Linked DNA regions of Homo sapiens. The protein of the gene in region 2 purifies or fractionates together with the protein of the main gene of each other region. This does not show direct contact. Each region holds a gene or a part of one and is shown on either strand. Other genes may lie near its edges.

What was found. The genes of interacting proteins can lie anywhere in the genome.
Region 1: the proteins of STK24 (region 2) and PPP2CB purify together in Homo sapiens (affinity purification with mass spectrometry; 5 studies listed by BioGRID and IntAct, with this or other methods). This does not show direct contact.

What each region holds. Positions count from the first base shown.
Region 1 is NC_000008.11:30,795,819-30,802,818, reverse strand, and holds part of PPP2CB (serine/threonine-protein phosphatase 2A catalytic subunit beta isoform), read left to right. Parts: intron 1-3,063; coding exon 3,064-3,273; intron 3,274-5,064; coding exon 5,065-5,238; intron 5,239-7,000.
Region 2 is NC_000013.11:98,455,073-98,462,182, reverse strand, and holds part of STK24 (serine/threonine-protein kinase 24 isoform b precursor), read left to right. Parts: intron 1-285; coding exon 286-409; intron 410-1,742; coding exon 1,743-1,811; intron 1,812-4,878; coding exon 4,879-5,015; intron 5,016-7,006; exon of another isoform or gene 7,007-7,110. UniProt on the Homo sapiens protein: Serine/threonine-protein kinase that acts on both serine and threonine residues and promotes apoptosis in response to stress stimuli and caspase activation.

The sequences.
Region 1 (7,000 bases), on a different chromosome or scaffold from region 2:
CCTCCATATTGTAGCATGTATCTGGACTTCGTTCCTTTTTATGGCTGAATAAAATTCCATTGTGTGGATATTTTATAATTACTGCCATCTGGAATTTGTTTTGAAGTTTAAGAAGCCAGGTTTTTTCCGTTTGAAAAAGTAATACAGAATTTGTTTTTTAAAATTTCGAGCATTGGCCAGTCACGGTGGCTCAGACCTGCAATCTCAGCACTTTAGGAGGCTGAGTGGGAGGACTGCTTGAGCCCAGGAGTTTGAGGCTGCAGTGAGCTACGTTCACACCACTGCACTCCAGCCTGGGCAACAGAGCGAGACCCTGTCTCAAAGAAAATTTGTGCAAGCACCTCAGAAAGGTAGCAAGGAAAGCAAATGCACTCTACCCACCATTCCTGTCCCCTGCCCTCCTACCTCCCAGACAACCATTATGTTTCTGTATATAATCTCCTCAGCCATGTTCTTCATATGCAAAAAATATGTGGTGTGCAGAATGTTTGTGGTGTATTGGGAGCTGTTTTGTGGAATAAACTTGGCTTCTGGTAAAATTATTGTTTAATTTGTGATCTCAGGAAAAGAAACTGAAGGGTATAAAGGCCTTAAGATTACACAATTAGATTAAAACTGAAGAGAACCCATGTTTTCTGGAAGACTTCATTGCATATAATCTCATTCTAATTAATTACAAGCAAGGAGAAGAAAGTATGGGCTACATTGTCCATAACTCTTGGGAATCCTACCAGGCTATAAGCAGAAAAGGCATTTGTAGAAGAATACATGGTAGCCTAGAATCAAAAGAAAAGCTGGAGAACCAAGCATGAGCATTTTGCAGAAATTAAGGGAGGTTAGAGGTGCAGTCAGAATCATACCTTAGAAATGATTTAGAACACTAGAGAGAACACTTCTGTTGGAATAGAACTTGCCATTGTCCCTGCTCTTTAGAGTTGCTTCAAATTAAGAGTCTGGGCTGGGCGCATCTAGTTGGCATAAAGTAATCTGGGGCTAGAGTAACTTTGTGATTCCTACAGTGTGTGTACAAACTATTGTGTGTTTTGAAAATCGCTACAGGTTGAGTATCCCTCAACTAGTGTTAAAGTCTGTTGACAAAAATGCAGAGTAGCAGGAAATACAGTGAAACTCAAAATCCATGTTTTAAATACTCTTCAGATTATCAAATCACTGAAGAGGCAGAGAACTGTCTGTCCCTAAAATTGTGCTCTCTCCCCCACCAGTCTAAGCTGTCATCTGCTTTTACTTTAAGCTTCATCCTGTTTGACTTTTTTTTTTTTTTTCTGTGACTGAGTTTTGCTCTGTCGCCCAGGCTGGAGTGCAGTGGCACGATCTTGGCTCACTGCAAGCTCCGCCTCCCAGGTTCATGTCATATTCTCCTGCCTCAGCCTCCTGAGTAGCTGGGGCTACAGGCGCCCGCCACCATGCCGGGCTAATTTTTTGTATTTTTAGTAGAGATGGGGTTTCACTGTGTTAGCCAGGATGGTCTCAATCTCCTGACCTCGTGATCCACCTGCCTCAGCCTCCCAAAGTGCTGGGATTACAGGCATGAGCCACCGTGCCCGGCCCTGTTTGACTTTCACTGTGCTGTGTTGTTGCCTTTTTTTTCTTTTGTCTCACTCTCACCCGGGGTTAACTGCAAAGTGGTGCGACCATGGCTCACTGCAGCCTTGAACTCCCCAGCTCAAGCTGTCTTCCCACCCCACCCCACCCTCCTAAGTAGCTGGGACTATAGGCACACACCACCATGCCCAGCTATTTTTTAAATTTTTTATAGAGACCAGAGGTCTCACTATGTTGCCCAGCCTGGTCTCAAACTCCTGGATTCAAGCTATCCTCCCCCCTCGGCCTCCCAAAGTGCTGGAATTACAGGCATGAGCCACCGCGCCAGGCTGCCCTGTGTTTTAGCTATGCTAGCCATCCGGTTGTTTCTTCCTCTCGGTTTGCATTCTGTATTAGTCCCAGTTCTCATCTCTTAGCTTTCGTGGTTTTCTGTTTCTAATTTCTCATGGACCTGGAAACTCGGTAAATAGCTTGTTGGAATTTTGTAGATAACAGTAGGCCCAGAATAAGGCCTGAGAGTCTCTTCTGGTGGGTTAGATACATTTTTATGATGTCTGTTTTGTTACTTCAGAGGCTTTTAAATTTTTCTTCCTGATTCTGGGATCTTTTGCTATTAGGCAGAGAGGCCAGATCGATGAGCCATTAGTGAACTTCGATTTAGTCAGAACATTTCATTTGCCAGTGTTTAAGCATAAATTCTGTACTTCAGGGCCACCTAATGGTATTTTCTAACTTAATTCTATAAATATAAAATAATTGGAATAAAGAAATTCAAGGTTGGCCTATGAATTGGTGTAAGAATGTTTGTTCACACAAGAATTTGCATAATTTGTGACTTTTTTCTTTCATTGACCTTTTTAAACTTGTGAATAATAAGATTATTCTTTTTAAAACACAGACCTTCTGCCTTGAAGATTTGCCTATTCTGGACATTTCATGTAAATGGAATTGTACATTATGTGATCATTTGTGACTGACTTCTTGCACTTACCATAATGTCTTCAAAGTTGTAGCATGTATCAGTACTTCATTTCTTCATAGCTGAGTGACTATTCCATTGTATGAATATGTTATGTCCATTCATCGGTTGATCAATATCTGGTGGTTTCTACTTTTTGGCTGTTATTAATAATGCTGCCATGAACATGTATAAACTGGATTTCATTTCTCTTGAGTATATACCTAGGAGTGGAACTGCTGGATTACATGGTAATTTTAGGTTTAACTTTGGAGGAACTGCCAGACAGTTTTCCACAGCAGCTGCACCATTTTGCATTTCCACCAGCAGTGTATGAGGGTTCCAGTTTATCCACATGTTTGCAACACTTATTAACTGTCTTTTTTATTATAGCCTTTCTAATGAAAGTGTTATCTCGTGGTTTGGTTTTCACATACGCTTTTATAAGGCACTTTTCAAGTGTTTTTTTCCCCAAATTTTCTTTTAATAGATAAGAAATGATAGTTTTAACTTTGTAATTGTTGATTTCACTTTTCTAACAGGCAAAGGAAATTTTAACAAAAGAATCAAATGTGCAAGAGGTTCGTTGCCCTGTTACTGTCTGTGGAGATGTGCATGGTCAATTTCATGATCTTATGGAACTCTTTAGAATTGGTGGAAAATCACCGGATACAAACTACTTATTCATGGGTGACTATGTAGACAGAGGATATTATTCAGTGGAGACTGTGACTCTTCTTGTAGCATTAAAGGTATGATTATTGAAATTCAATTTTTTTTTCAAGATTTAAACCAGGCAAAAGGCAAGAATGACAGTATTGCATATCATCTGTTTTATGGTCTGTTCAGTTTATAGCCCCTTAAAATAATAATTGGTTTTACATCTTTTTAAAGGAGAGGTGAAAAGGATAACTTCTGTGTATTCCCGATAAATGTATCATTCTCTCGAGTAGTCCATAGCTGAAGTCTTGGAATCATATTTGACTTTATCACTTATCCGTTATATTGAGTCAGTAGACAAGTCTTTTTAAATCCTTGCTTTGAAAAGTCTGTTGTTCCTGTCTCTTTCTATTTTCACACAGTTTATCACTTCACAATTCGATTGTTACAATAGCTTAGTAACTAATATTTCTGCCTCCAAGATCTGATCCCCCCCAAATCCACCTGGCATACGCTGGCCGATGAAATCTCTTATTTAACCCTTTTATATTGTTACTTCCTGTTGATTGCCTGTTGCCTATAGAATCAAATTCAAACTCCTTGCCTGGCCTTCTATAGTCTAGTCTGAATTTTTGCCTGCCAGCGGTTGGTAGCATAAACTCTGGCTCAAATCAAAGTTTCTTCTTATTCAGTGCTCTGGACTCTGTTTATTTCCATAGTCGATTTCCCCCACGAGGTTATCCTGTCCCTGATTTCTTACCTTTCTGCCAAGACTCAGCTCAGGTCTCACTTCCTCCATGTAACCTTCAACCATTTTAGCCTTATTCCTTCTGCTCTAAATTACTATGAGGAAACTTATTCTCCCAGCCCTTATTTATGCTGCAAAAGTGGCTTATTGCCTTCTATTACTTATTATTTTACATATGTCCTTAGTGAGGTTAGTCCCTCAACAGCAGAAGCCATATATTACATGGTCATGGGTCACTTAACTGCAGGCATACATTCTGAGAAATGTGCCATTAGGTGATTTTGTCATCTTTGGAACTTACACAAACCTAGGTGGTATAGCCTACTGCACACAAAGGCTGTAATGGTATAGTCTCTTGCTCCAGCCAACATCGTACATGTAATCTGTTAACAAAAATGCTGCCCAGCACATGACTGTACTTGTGTAGATCTGGCATCTGGCTTTATAGCACCAAACTTACGTTAGACACATAACGGATGCTTAGTAAAATATGTATGAATTGAAGTACATACTTGCAGCTTTTAGCTTAATTTGCAGAATCCAGTGCTTTTTCGTATTTCTTATCAGATGCATTCCTAACTAAATAGTCGCTTATGTTTTTTAATAGAAAGGAAACTATTAATACATTTGAAATCTTGCCCAGTTTTGTCAAGGGCCTGTTTTTGTGTTATTATTGGCAAATCCAATCTTCCTGTGGGAAATAAAAATTGAAAAGGGAAGAAGTTAATCTGTAGAGTTTGTCTCAGCTTCAAACCTGTGATTTTCACTACTCATTCAGCAGTAAGAAGTCATAGTGTTCTAGAAAGATTTAGGAAAGTAGTAATAATTTGATGATGAAGATAATAGAAGCAAAGTATCAGATACAAGTTTATTATAGTAATATAAGTATTAGTTAAAGGTTCTGATGAGGGTTGTCGAAACCTGATGAAAAAGGATGATTATAATAAACACGTCAAATGTTAACCAGTAAGACCTGGTTATGAATAAGCAAGTTTTTTATTTTGAAACTGAAATTAACATTTAATATACTGGTGGCCAAAAGCGCCGTGTTTAAAAATGGGTCAGAGACTGGTGTACTTCACATGACACTAGTAAAAATGTGATTTTACTATGGGTTTTACTCCTTTTCTTCCAGGTGCGTTATCCAGAACGCATTACAATATTGAGAGGAAATCACGAAAGCCGACAAATTACCCAAGTATATGGCTTTTATGATGAATGTCTGCGAAAGTATGGGAATGCCAACGTTTGGAAATATTTTACAGATCTCTTTGATTATCTTCCACTTACAGCTTTAGTAGATGGACAGGTATGTATATGTGTGCTTACATCTTGGGAGGAGGTAAATGGAAGCAGAGATTGACTATTGGTAAGCTGGGGTCTAGATTCATATGACCTGTGTTTCTGCATCTCCTCGGCCTTTTCCTCCTCCTTCCCTTATACTTAAAATTTCAAAGCAGGGAAGTGGATAAGTTTCACATACATTTGGACCAGCAAATTTTCCTGTTGTTCTCAGATATGTATGTAAATCTTTTAACCAAAGAATATGCTGTGCTTTTTAAGATATCGATAAACATTATAAATAAATGTTTAAGACACTGATGTATAGTACTAGCAAAGCAAGATGTTATTTAAAACTATCTCTGCATATACATGCAGTGTCTGCTGGTTACCATGAATAACTTTTCATTTCTATTTTCATGGTAACTGCAAATGTTATATTGTGTATTACACCTTCCCTGAGAAGTGAATGCTTGGCTGGGCACAGTGGCTAGTACTTTGGGAGGCCAAGGCAAGAGGACCGCTTGAGTTCAGGGGTTCAAGACCAGCCTGGGCAATGTAGTAAGACCCTGTCTCTACAAAAAAAAAAATTTAAAAATTAGCTAGGCATAGTGGCGCGTGCTTGTGGTCTAGCTACTCAGGAAGCTAGAGGTGAGAGGATCTCTTCAGCCCAGGAAGTTAAGGCTGCAGTGAGCCGTGATCCAGCCTGGGCTTCAGCCTGGGCAACAGCAAAACCCCATCTCAAAGAACAAAAAAAGAAAATAGAAGCAAATGCTATTTCTGCATTTGCTGTAACAAGTAGTGCAGACATGTCATGAAACATTCAAAAGTATAAGAAGAAATTATGCAAATTTCCTATTTCAATTTCTAGAGATAATCACTGTAAGCATGAACTGATTTAAATTTAAATATAAAACAAAAGCCGGGCAAGTTGGCTCCTACCTGTAATCCCAGCACTTTAGGAGGCCAAGGTGGGTGGATCACCTGAGGTAGGGAGTTCGAGACCAGCCTGGCCAACATGGTGAAACCCCATCTCTACTAAAAATACAAAAATTAGCCGGGGATGGCATTGCATGCCTGTAGTCCCAGTCCCAGCTACTTGAGAGGCTGAGGCAGGAGAATCACTTGAACCTGAGAGAGACAGAGGTTGCAGTGAGCCAAGATCGTATCACGGCACTCCAGCTTGGGTGACAAAGTGAGACTCCATCTCAAAAAATAAAATAAATAAATATAAAACATATAATAAAACTCCATAATTCTTAAATTATGAAAGCCCAGAGTTGTCAAGAATGTAATAAATTCTCTCTTAGACTGCTCGTGGGAATATAATTTGGTTATAACTTTCCCTGTGTAATCCTGACAGTCTTTTTTCTCAGCCATGATTTTGGACACTGCCGTGATTAATTTGAAAGGACGATACTTTGCCTGGACTTGTTAAAAGAAAATGTGAATTTAAAAGATGTTAAATTTTAATTAAGGTTGTTTTTAATTGTTTTGAAGCAACATAGTCTTCATTAATAATAAAATTGCTGGACAGAATGATTTTTAAAAGACAGCCTATCAGTTTTAATGAAGTATCTAGTTTTTAAAATGGGTGCGTTAGTAGAGCTTTTATATATTTTTCCCTTCCTCCTTCCTTCCTTTCTTTCTGAAAAGTTACTAGAAAAGAAATAATAGTGAACAAAACTGATCTAGAAGAAAAGATGGAAGGCACATAAAACACTAGGAATGAAATAAGGCATAATTATAACTATGCAGGAGCTCGTGTATCACAAGAACAGGTGCAGCTT
Region 2 (7,110 bases):
GGAGGTGGGGGAGGTGTTCTCCGGGAGGAGGAGGAGGGTGGGCATGCACACACTGGCACGCCAGGGAGTTGTGGAACCACCTCCCGATGGTCTCTTCTCTGTGAGGGAGGAGGCGGGGGGGTCTTTGGGAAATCCCAGAGGGACTGGACAAGGGTGTGATGGGTGGGGACTTGGGGCTGGTGGGTGTGGGTTTAGAGGTCCCCAGGCGGCCTCCCCCTGAACGTCCCAGCGCCCCCAGAGCAGGTGTGCGAGCACTGATGGGATTTCCTGCATTTCTGTGTTAAGGGAAACAGATGGCCAAGCCTCGGGGGGCAGTGATTCTGGGGACTGGATCTTCACAATCCGAGAAAAAGATCCCAAGAATCTCGAGAATGGAGCTCTTCAGCCATCGGACTTGGACAGAAATAAGGTACGTCTGCTCACTCCAGAATGGCCACGCTGACCTCAGTCTGCAGTGTTTTGGAGGCACTTGTGTGTGAAGCTTGCTGTGGGTGCGGCTGGGGTCCTTTGTGGCAGCTGTCCTGGAATTTTGTTGCTAGGGGATGGGCAGATGAAGAGCTTTAGTTCTGTCTGATGATCCAGGTGTTCACACCAGGGAGTCTGGCCTCTGGTCTGTTTTGTGCCACTCTATTCTGCTCTCTGCAGCCCTGCTGTTGAGTTAGGATGTCCCGATGTGGCAATGTCATGGGGTTTGGGGGTGACCCGTGAAATGACTTCATAGCTCTGAGGGACTGTTGTGCATGTTGCGGTTACTTACATACATATCATAATTTTGTGACTGAGTTTTAAGGACCTTATAAGTAAATGCATTGCTTTTGATATTTATGTAAAACAATTTTGATTAATTGGTTTTATGCCTGTTAAATTTATGAAAGGCCATATATTTAGGGTCTTGTAAAGCATAGTGGTGTAGTTTCTTTCAGGCAGGGTGGGCCAGTGGCTGTCCCCTGTTGATCCTACAAGTCCCGCTTTGATAAGTGAACAGGTGTTAAATGTCCAAATAGAGGTTGCAAAAGTAGAAACTCGGTCTCTGTCCTAGACAGCCATTGGAATGGCCAATCTTGACCTGATTTCTATTTCCAGGGTTTCATTAGTAAAGTACTTTTCTCTCTCTCTCTCTCTCTCTCTTTTTTTTTTTTGAGACGGGGTCTCTGTTGCCCAGGCTGGAGTGCAGTGGTGCCATCAGAGCTCACTGTAGCCTCAAACTCCTGGGCTCAAGTGATCCTCCCACCTCAGCCTCCTGAGTAACTGGGATTGCAGGCATGTGACATCACGCCCAGTTTATTTAAAACTTTTTTTTTTTTTAATAGAAACATGGTCTCACTATGTTGCCCAAGCTGGTCTCGAACTCTTGGGCTCAAGTGATCCTCCTGCTTCGGCTTCCCAAAGTGTTGGAATGACAGGCATGAGCCACCACGCCCAACCAGTAAAGCACTTCTGCGTAGATAGCAAGACGAGGCAGTTCACCGCCTGTGCCCACACAGAGTCCCCTTCCACATGGAACCCAGATGCTGGTTTCCCCGGTGCGTGGGTTTTGCATGTCACTGCAGATGAAACTTTGAAGTCTAGTGAGAGGCAGCCGATAGTCTCCTTCAGATGTTATGGTGCGCAGAGGGTGTTTCCTCAGCGTGAAGTGTAGAGGCAACTCCTGCGCTTCCATAGTCCAGGTGGGAGGTTTATTAAATTATTGCCAATGTGAACGTCAACTGTTTCTGATGACCTTTTTTTCCCTCTCCCCCAAGATGAAAGACATCCCGAAGAGGCCTTTCTCTCAGTGTTTATCTACAATTATTTCTCCTCTGTTTGCAGAGGTAGGTACCTGGCTGGCCTTTTCGGAGTGGGAGGGGAGGGGGAAGGAGAAGCTGGACACACTTCAGTGGTGATGTTGCCAGTTAAGAGTTGGGGACATTAAGACAAGCTGGCAAAGGCTCGGAAAGCCTGCATGGTGCCTTCCCAAAGGCTGTCAGCACCACCTTGCGCCTCCCCTGTCCTGGGTGATGCCCACTCCGCCGCAGCCTGGAATGTGTAGACTGGATGACAGTGACCCAGCCCGAGACCCTGTGTCACCCGTTGCCCTGCTTTTTAGCAAATCTCATTGTGTACAGCCTGCTCTCTTTGCCTCAGACCAATTTCTGGCCATGTGAAAAGTAGATTCTTTCTTCTAAGGAGACGTTGGATGCCCTGGAGTCCTCCGGTTTCCCCTGAGCCACATGTTTCACTGAAGTCCCTCCTCTGCTCAGCAGTGCTGTGCTCCCAGCTGGGCCTCCCCACGCCCACTCCCTGCTCAGCCTCTCCCTCCCAGAGGAAAGTGCTCCCGTGGCCGTGTTTTGAGAGATTTTCAAAAGTAGGCTTTATAAGAATGAAGATTGTTCTGCATCTGGTTAGTAGCGGATTTGAAAATAAGTTGGAAGTCCCCTCTTTTCTTGTTGTGCCCCTTCCTGGCTGAGGCTGCCTTTGAGGTACTCACTGTGGGCCACACACGCATCTGTTTGCGTGGGGATCTTCCCTCTTTGGGCAGTTTTCCACTGCGGCTGTGTTTAGGGGTCCTGGTCCTTGAAGGGGAGGTGCTCAGGAGAGGAAGTGTCATAGGAGCTCATTCTCCTCCCCTGTGCCTGCGTCACGCAGCGGGGGACCCCCGGCCATGGGCCGTGCCTGGCCAGCCACGGTCCTGCCAGTGCCTCTTCCCAGCCCTCCAATAAGCCTTCACCTGTTGCCCTGCCCAGCAGGTGCCCTGGAGGGTTTGTCTGAGGGCCTCTGACCTGGCAAGTTCAGGGCCCGGTGGGAGCAGGGCTGTGGCCAGAGCCCGAGGCCTCACCTGCAGCTTCAAGTGGGAAGTAGCCGAGCCCGCTGGTGTCGGGGAAGCCACAGGGCACGCGGAGGCCCTGCTGGATGATGTCTGGCTTCAGCCCTGGCTCATGGTTCTGGGCACCTGTGTTCTTCCTAACTAGGATGTCCGGGTTGAGCGCCATCCTGCGCTTCATTTTGTCCCATGGGAGTTGGCCCCGTGGGATTTCCAGGCTGTGCTCCTGCGGCCCTGCCATTGGCCGCTGGAATAGGGTCAGTCAGGCAGTTAGGGAAAGTGCATGGACTTTTTCATTCTCCTGAGGCTGTTTATTTTTTTACTGGGCCCATGAAGCAACTTTGACATAATTATTCAGGACATATCCTAAACGCCGTCATATCCTGGATTTTCCAGGTAACCAATTGCTAAACTCACAGGCATCTTTCCCAATGTATTTTTAAGAATGATATTTGCTACCCTAGAGTTCAGAGTGTTTATTGTGTATTATTTCATACAATACTTGTAGAAGCCCAGTAGAAGGATTATATCCCCATGCTTACAGATGAGGACATTGAGGAGACGGGTGTTGGCGTCCCTGCTTTCCTTCAGGGAGCACAGGTCAGGTTGCTCCCTGAAGTCAGTGATGGGTCCAGCACGTTCCACACGGCAAGGGGACAGGCCCTCTCCCAGGGCGGCCCTTCTGCCGCCTTTGCTCCTTCTTTGAGACTTAGGGGCGGGGCATGGGCAGGAGGGAGAGTGCTGGATTGTAGCTGACCCTCTCGGGACTTGTAAATACTGTCAAGTGATTGGGAGTCCTAGACAAACACGAGTGGCCGCCTCGGGGCCGGCGGCGTGGCCCTGTGACAGCAAGAACTTCAGGAACAAATGCTCTCTACACCCACTGGCCCTCCAAGGTCAGACCCTTCTAGTTCCTGCCTGCCCCTTCAGTAGCGAAGAGAGAAGCCGTTGCTCTTAGGGCAGGGCTGGGTTTGGAAATGACAGCATGTGTTCAACAACCTGAAAACCAAGCTGAATGTCGCCTGAGATGTTTCTTTCTTCCCTGAAGAGGAGGCGGTGTCCATCACAAAGAGCCTCTTCTGTTGAGTTCTGAGCCATGCTGTATCTTGACTTGAACAGCTCTTATTTTCACAGTTCACGTTTTTGGGCCTCCAGAGAGAGACTTGGAGTTGACCTTCAACTGAGGGAAGTGTCTGAAGGCACTGTTGTGATTTCTCTTGGGAGTAGAGGTGCCAGGAAGAACACTGGAGATTCCCAGAATTTAAGGCTGCCACTTATTTACATGAAATCAAATATTTTGACTCTACTCTGGATCACAAAGGCAGTTTGCTGGAGTTTAAGAACCAACCCATTAACATTAGGAAGTAAGCAGTGTTGAGATCAGAATAACTTAGGATAGGCTTTGAAATTGCTTTTCTGGTACAAGGTTATGGTTGAAATAGGAAAACAGCACAGAGAGGACAGTCCATCACGGTGAGACTTGGGAAAGGCACACAGAGAGCTAGTCGTCTCTGTTCTGGCCTCGAACAGTAATGATTATGGTCTGATGATTGCCCTGTGTATACATAACTGCTCTCAGAGCATTTGAATCACCTTTCTTCAAAAGGAACCCGGGCCGGGCACAGTGGCTCACGCCTGTAATCCCAACACTTTGAGAGGCCGAGGCGGGCGGATCACTTGAGGTCAGGAGTTCAAGACCAGCCTGGCCAACATGGTGAAATCCTGTCTCTATTAAAAATACAAAAACTAGCTGGGCATGGAGGCAGGGGCCTGTAATCCCAGCTACTCGGGAGGCTGAGGCAGGAGAATCGCTGGAACCCAGGAGGCGGAGGTTGCAGTGAGCTGAGATCACGCCACTGTACTCCAGCCTGAGCAACAAAGCCAGACTCCGTCTCACAAAAAAAAAAAAAAAAAAAAGCAATTTGAAGTGGCCTGGAGCCCTAGCCAAAGCTTTTCCCGGACACCCTGGGGCTGGGGTAGTGTCGTGGTCCACACGCCGTGTTGTTCCTTGAACAGCATGCTTCCCAGTTTTGCAGCTGGTGTGCTTCATGCCATTCTTCCTGTTCGTGTGTTTTCAGTTGAAGGAGAAGAGCCAGGCGTGCGGAGGGAACTTGGGGTCCATTGAAGAGCTGCGAGGGGCCATCTACCTAGCGGAGGAGGCGTGCCCTGGCATCTCCGACACCATGGTGGCCCAGCTCGTGCAGCGGCTCCAGAGGTAACTACCCAGGGCCCCTCTGGGCTGGGGAAGGAGAGACCTGCACTTGGGCTGGGACTTAGTTGATGAGTTTGGTACTTGATTCTTGGCCTGTCTGTTCCTGTTATCTTGCAGGCCTCAGGGTAGACAGAGTTGAATTAGAGGAGACTTTGTTCTGAATTCTAGAAATCAATGTGAATGAAGGATCTGAATCTGGAAACTACTGGAAAGCCCACAGGACTTAGTGCATTTGTAGCTTTTGCCACATAAATACAGGGTGGTGGTGAAATACCTGTTTCCTCTTAATTATGCAGCTTAATTATTGGCCAGAGAATGATCGTTCTTAGCCAGATGTGTGTAACTATCTATCTGGTTTTCGGCTTTAAAGTCAAGTGTGAGAAATGACAGCAGCTTTGGTGTGGTCAACTCAGCGGGAGCGGGCGCAGGTGTGTTCCCTGTGTTAGCTGTGTGTGTCATGTCTGGAAGCCTCCTTGGTAGGGGTTCATCTGTGCCAGCCTGTAGGGAGCTTTTGTCCCTGCCCAGTGGCCCCACCTGTTGAATGCACTATGGGTGAGGACTCAGTGGGGTGACAGTTTTGCCCTCCCTGCCCCCTCCCAACTTGTTGTAGGAGTATCCATGGGAACCAAGCCCCTCCTGACTGCCATCTGGCACAAGTGCAGGCGTTTGGAGGCAGTGGATGTGTGCTGGGAAGCCGCTCTGTGTGACCTGAGGGTGATTTGTCACTGGGCTGTCCTCCACACCCCCAGGAGGACCAGGCGTGCTGCTGCCTTGACAGTTCATCTTCAGGTGTCCAGGCTGACACCTCCCAAAGCTGGCTGAGACTCTGTGATCATGAGGGGGATTTCTGGGTCTTTCCTGAGACTGCGTCCCACCTGACAGTACATAAAGAAGTTTTGCACACGTGAGGTCCCTTTTGCTATTTGGAAGTGATTGAAGGGGCTGCCTACTGTCCTGTGAAGAGCCCCTCTACGTGGGGACAGCAGGAGAAAACCACAGTTCTGATACTTCACGTTTATGCTTCTGAACTCGGGTTTCTTAGTAAGACATTTCAACTTTTTAAGTTGCTAGAAAATAAAAATGATCTACTTGGCTGCCTTCAATTTTGAGGCAATTGAAGGACGATCCCTCCCTCCTTTGATACTAAAAACAATATAGGAATAAAGGAAAATAGAATTAAAAAGTCACCCATCTTTTGCCTGAACACAAACTTTTTGATTTCTCAAACTTAGCATCACATACCTCATTCTAGAGGCATTTATTTCCCATTAGAAAGAGCTTTATAATAAAACAAATAGAACAAAACCAGAAACGGGTAGGATTGTTACTGTCTTGTTGGGCATTTTGCTCTCTGCTTTTGTAGTATTACTTTTAAAACCAATACTTTCCACACTGTCCAGAATTGCCTGAAATTGTTATGAACTGTTTGTTTATATACGTGACTTGATTTCCCCAGGGCAGCTCCAGGGCACAGAGTGTGTGGCTTGTATGTGTTGAACTGATCCACGTTTCCCATTCCCAGGCCCCTATCTCTCTGTTCCTCTTCTTTTAGTTGTTAAGGCAAGTTGATCTGTACCAGTGCTGGCCAGTAGAAGTACAGCGTGGGCCACACACAGAATTTTATGTTTTCTGCTGGATGTGGTGGCTCATGCCTGTAATCCCAATGCTTTGGGAGGCCCAGGCAGGAGGATCGCTTGAGGCCAAGAGTTTGAGACCAGCCTGGGCAAAATAGCAAGACCCTGTCTCTACCAAAAAAAAAAAATTTAGCTAGGCATGGTGGCTTGTACCTGTGGCCCTAGCTACTTGGGAGGCTGAGGCTGCAGAATTGTTCGAGCTGAGGAGTTCGCGGCTATGGCTGTGATCACGTTTGCACTCCAGGCTGGGCAACAGAGTGAGAACCTGTCTCTAAAAACCAAACAAAAAGAGAATTTTACATTTTCTAGTAGCCATATTTTTAAAAAGCAAAAAGAAGTGAAATTAGTTTCAACAATACATTTTTTAACCTGCCAGATCCAAAGTATTATTTCAACATTAATAACAACAATCATCAATAAGGTATTTTACATTTTTGGAGGGACCGTCTTTGGAGTTGGTGTGT